2 separate regions of the Homo sapiens genome follow, and region 1 is linked to region 2. The links come from fine-mapping of genetic effects on gene expression. Tissue or cell type: testis. Region 2 holds a variant in brackets; the other region holds the start of a gene. All regions are shown on one strand. Distances are between the middles of the regions.

Evidence for each region.
Region 1: LINC01020 starts here. The variant in region 2 is fine-mapped to the expression of LINC01020 in testis (GTEx, PIP 0.98).

The regions. Positions count from the first base shown.
Region 1 is chr5:5,033,183-5,036,107 of GRCh38, reverse strand. It overlaps LINC01020 (long intergenic non-protein coding RNA 1020), which reads right to left and starts at 1,749. Exons shown (of 7, transcript NR_026994.1): 1 at 1,571-1,749.
Region 2 is chr5:5,038,596-5,041,520 of GRCh38, reverse strand. LINC01020 (long intergenic non-protein coding RNA 1020) reads right to left here. Exons shown (of 7, transcript NR_026994.1): 2 at 2,723-2,851. Among named protein-coding and RNA genes, the nearest start is that of LINC01020, 5.7 kb to the right of the region's middle. RefSeq lists enhancers at 1,318-1,557, 1,578-1,677. The variant C/T (reference allele first, on the strand shown) is at 1,169.

The sequences.
Region 1 (2,925 bases), 5.4 kb after region 2:
GTGGAAGAGAGGGAGGTGAGCTAAATATTTTTGAAGGTAGACTCAAAAGGATTTTATGATCTAGAAAGGAAGTCATAATAAAGAATCACAATGTATTTTTTTCTATTATAGATCCCTTTAAAATTAAACTTAGCATCTACTCATAGATATAATTAAGTAGCCAAAATATTAGTGTTCTTGATTCACTAGAACTAATTTCATATCTTGACAAATAAGGAAATATGAGGGTTTTATTTTTTATTATTTTACTTGTATGAATTTATTGACATTCGATCAGAATGATAAAAATAGGAGAAGCTGAAAATTCCCATAAACTCTTGGGGCTACAAGACAGCACTGTTCACTCCAATCCTTGCTGCTGTACAAAGAGAGCAGACACTGTTCCAGTATCTCACTCCATCACCAGCACCAGCCCAACCTCCACACCTGCCATCCCTCCAGTGGTGCAGGTGGAGGGCTGGGTGATGCTGTGTAAGCAAAAAGAAACTAGGTTCCTTTATAAACTCTTATTCTTTATAATCTATAAATACAGAATCTTGTTAATTTGACTCCTATTGACTTGTGATTATATAAGATGACTTCACAATCTACATTTTACTTTTTTAGTAAATATCAAGTGTGTTTTATATTTACAATAAAGCTGGAATTAAGAAACTTGATCTATAATTATTTTCAGATTAACTGATTAAATAGCCTGGCAATCTGTATGCATCAGCTAAAAACTACCATGATAAATTTATTAAAGTAGTTAACTTAAAAAATGTAAAAAAAGTATTTCATATATTTATTATGTTAAAATATAATAGAGCATGTATTAAATAATTTTATACATGTAAAAATTTAACCTTTTGAAATCCATATGGCAACATATGGGGAAAGCTCTAAAGACAGTCAAAACTTGAATCATTCAAAACATCTCTTAGGCATTTATAAAAAGGATCTGTTCTCCCAGATGTGATGAACCAAGCTTCCCTGGTGGCATTACCAATGAGAGCAAACAATTTAAAAAATTCTAAACATCTAACGTCAGAGGAAAGAAAGATAAAGAAGTTCATGAATTTATGTATAATATGTATATAACACCTCTTTCCATGAAATGTTTGACACTGCTTATAACAAATATCCATCAAGATAGGAAAATATGTTTACAATTACAACATTTTTACCAAAAAACGGTATACATCATGCATCGACCATAAAAGTTAGCATTATTTCTGTGAATGAGTTGTGAACAGGTATTTATTTATTTATTTATTTATTTATTTACTTACTGAGACAGCGTCTCCTTGTGTCACCCAGGCTGGAGTGCAGTGGTGCAATCTCAGCTCACTGCAACCTCCACTTTCCAGGCTCAAGCAATCCTCCCACATCAGCCCCTAGTAGCTGGGACCACAGGCGTGCACCACCACACCAGGCTAATTTTTATATTGTTTGTAGAGATAGCGTTTTGTCATGTTGCTCACGGTGGTCTCAAACTCTGAGTTCAAGCCGTCCACCCACCTTGGCCTCCAGAGTGCTGGGATTACAAGTGTGAGCCACTGTGCCCAGCCTGGAGACAGTGTGAACATACCATAAGGATCGGGTTCCTAATGGCCAATGAGCAGAGAATGAAAATAAGTCTGAGTTGTGGCTCAAGGCTGCTCCAACTTGGTCACAATTGGAGTCCTCCTGTCCTGTAAGGGGCAGCAATTCTTTTTGATAAGGAAAAGGCACATTCTGGTGGTGAGCTTTCCTTTCTGTTTTGGGGCCTCAGCACAGTATTCTGTTGCTCTGGGGGTTTACAGAATGTTTGGTGCATAATAAGGCATTTCATGTGACATCACGTCATACCCAGGGACCCACTTTATAAAAACGGAGACGTGACGGTGGGGACGTGACCACAGCACTAATCTCACCACACATCACACCATCAGAAGCGTCCAGTCCAGAATAATGGGACAGCCTACGAAGATACATCTGCTGGGCCAGCTCAGAGGTGATGTCCTGTGAGGATGAGGGGTCATTTTTTAAAATTCAGTGTAGGTGCTAAGTCAATGACCATTTCATGTGCTACATTTCCAACATATAAAATCATTAGGTTTCAGCAGAAGTGGCCTCTTCAGTCATCATATCCACTTGTGAATGTGTGATTTTCATCTAGACAGTTGAGATTTCTGTGGATTTTAGAAGTCCTGATTTCCAAAGGATACACTCAGAATTCCACTGAATGCAAAACTCCAGTCACCACGTGGGCAGTTCAGACTGCTTGTGCCAAAGGAAGGGAACCCTCTTACAGAATGACTGATTCCCAGTATGGCATTTCTTGTGACACCACATCAGACTAAATGGCCCACTTGATAGAAAGGGAGGTGCTGCAGTGCACATGGCATGCCAGGCCACCTAGAAGAGGTCCTACTGCTGCAGCAAGGTAGCTGCCCCTGCCTTCAGTAGGGTGTGCCGTCACCTCTCCATGGAGCCGGGGAGAAATAAGCTTGACACATGGTATCCACGTGGGTATTTCTTAGGACTTTCTTCTCCAGTTTTAGCAGTGAATGGAACCATTCCCTGATAAGAGCATGATAAACACAGACTCAGACCTCCAGGGACAGGAGCTGGTTCATGGCCCAGGCAAACCAGAAGAGATGCTGTCCAAGTGTGATGACAGCCTTGTATGGAAAGAAGGGAAAGATATGAGCATCATTTGAAGATTTGAGGCTGGCTGTAGTGGCAGAGACTGTAGTTCATTCCAGGAAATTTCCTCTGCTAAGTTTTTCCAGGAGGACATGCTAGCAGCCTCCTGGGTGAGCTGCTCCCAGGTCTCACATGTAGTGACCCTATCAGAGAGGCCACAACAGTGGGCTTTCAAGGGTGTTGGGCTCCACCTCCCAGATCCCCTTCCAGAACAGAAGGACTCCATTTCCCTGGCTGCCGAAAACATTTTGGGCT
Region 2 (2,925 bases):
GATGCCCCGTCCGTGCTCCCACCAAAGCAAGCTTCTCCAGCGATGTGTGCCACCCTTCTGTTTTCCCCTGACTCCAGGGCACGGCCCCCAGAGCTTTCTCCACTTTCTCCCATATTGCCAAGTTTCTCCTCTTCACTGGATTATCACCATCTATACAAAAGCATGCTGTCATTTCTCCCAATTTTGATGACCCTTCTCCTAACCCCATTTCTTCTGCCTGCAATCACCTATTTCTTTGCTCCCATTTTCAATAAAGCTGTCAAGAGTTATCTATACTCACTAACTCCATTTCCTCTCCCTCTCTTGTCTTTTAACCTCACTCCACCCGCTTCTGTCCTCTATACTCCACAAACACATTGTGGAAGATCTTTGTGTCGCTAAACCCAATGGGACCAGTTACATTCCACCCAGCTGACCCCTTCCTCTCTCTTGATTCATGTCTTCTCTTAGATTCCACAATACCACACTCCTGTGGTTTTTCTCATAACAAATTTTCCTTTCTTTCCCCTCTGATTTTTTACTTTTTATGGCTCAGAGCTCAGTCTTCCTCTCCTCTCTGTCCACACACATTCCTCTTGTGACCTTATGCAGTCTCACAGCTTCAAATACCATTCACACGCTGATGCCCAAGTTCATAGTCCACACTGCGGCCTCCTGACATTTCCTCCTTTGTCCAACTGTCTTTTCGACATCTCCACTGGTGCTTTACCCACATTGGATTCTCCACACATTCAACACTGAGCCCATTCCCAGCCTTCCCTTCTCAGCTGTTAGCTGCCCTGCTCTACCAATGTTTTGCCTCCCCCAAACCTGGGGTCATTCTCATCTGTTATCACTCTTGAACATTCCATATCCTTAGAGTGAGGGAATTGTTTTGGCTTTATTTTAAACTTGTCCAGCAATCTTATTATTTCTTACCATCTCCAGGACTACCACTTTATTCTGAGGGACCACAATCTCATGCCCCTGTTTCCCAGTGGCCTTGGATTTGGTGTTTACTTTCCTGACCCTGACCCTACCCCACATCCTCTGGAGTCTGTCCTAGATATAGAAGCCAGAGTGGCTCATTGTAAATGTCTCTTCCTGGTATCCCTTACTGCTGAAAACCTTCCTTCTTCTTCTAAAATGGCTTGCTAGACTCCACATAATCTAGCCCCACATTATTTTC[C/T]TCACTACCAAATTTCTCCCAGTTCTCTCTACTCCAGATGTTCTGGCCACCGTCTTCCATTCCACTAGGCTTCCTCCAGCCTCGGGGCCTTTGTCCAGATGCTCTTTCTGCTGAGAAAGTCCTTGCCATAGATACAGAAATGACTAATTCTCCCACCACCTTTAAGCGTTTTCAAAATGTCCTTCTTAATAAAGCCTACCCTGGTGATATGGTTTGGCCAAAATCCCCCACCCAAATCCCATTCTGAATTGTGGTTCCCATAATCCCCACGTGTCATGGGAGGGACCCTATAGAAAGTAATTGAATCATGGGGGTGGTTTCCCCCATGCTGTTCTCATGACAGTGAGTGAGTTCTTACAAGATCTGATGGTTTTATAAGGGACATTCCCCTTGCTTCACTCATACTTCTTCTTGCTGGTGCCATGTGAAGAAGGATGTGTTTGCTTCCCCTTCTGCCATGATTGTAAGTTTCCTGCAGCCTCCCCAGCCATGCCAAACTGTGAGTCAATTAAACCTCTTTCCTTTATAAATTACCCGGTCTCAGGTATGTCTTTATTAGCAGTGTGAGAACCAGCTAATACACATAGTCAGTATATTTTAAAAATCATGACCAGCTGCCTTTGATACTATTTCTTTTCCTTGCCTTATTTTGTTTTTCTATTTGTCATTTAGTATATTTATTATTTGTGTTCTCACACTAGAATGTAAGCTCTAAGAGGACAGAGGATTCTTTTTTGTTGTTGTTCACTGATGGTTCCAGGGTGCCCAGAGGAGAACCTAGCACATATTAGGTACATGTTAGTTGAAACATGACCATAATATACTTAATTCAGCAACCTATCCTTTATGAAGTACTGCTGCTGGCCCCACAGAGGCACAGGAGGTGCATTGACTTACCTGCCCAAAGGCACATGGCACACAGCTTGGAAGCCACCCAGCTGGAATTTGAACCTAGGTAGTCAGACATCCGGAGGCCTGCTCTTAAGCACTTTGGCAAAATACCTGTGCTTCTCCAAGAACTGAGCATCCAGGGTGTCTTTTTCCTTTCTGTGTTGCTACAAAGAAATATCTGAGGCTGGGTGATTTATAAAGAAAAGAGGTTAATTTTGCTCATGGTTCTGTAGGCTGTACCTCTGCTCAGCTTCTGGTGGGGGCTCCTGTGCTGCACCAAACCTAGTGAGAAGGTCAAAGAAGAATCAGGCACTTGAAGGGGACCAAACCTGAGAGTGTCCTGGATTCATAACAACCCACTCTCAAGGGAACTCATCCATTCCTTTAGGAACCAATTCATCTCGTGAGATGGAAAACTCACTACCATATGAACAGCACCGAGTCATTCACAAGGGATCTTTTCCCGTGACTCAAACATCTTCCACTAATACCTTCCTCCTAATACCATCACGCTGGGGATTAAATTTCAACATGAGCTTAGGTAGGGACAAAAAAAAAACATAGCACAGGGGAACATGACAGATAAACCTGCCCTCAGTGATGGAGCAGTCCAGTGAGAGAAGTAGATATTAAACTCATAATCAAGCCCTATACTCAACTCACCTCAAGTCCTCTCTCAGGTGTAAACACTCTGTCTTCCAACTGGCCTACCCACCCCAGGAATATCTCCATATGGGTTTCATCCGTCACTTTGAAGCGAGTCAGTTCTGGTAGCAGCAGGTCACTGCAGGTCTTAAAAAGAAAAATCATAGCAACAACATCTGTAAAAAAATCATAATTAAAAAAACTCGAAAGTGAACTATGGT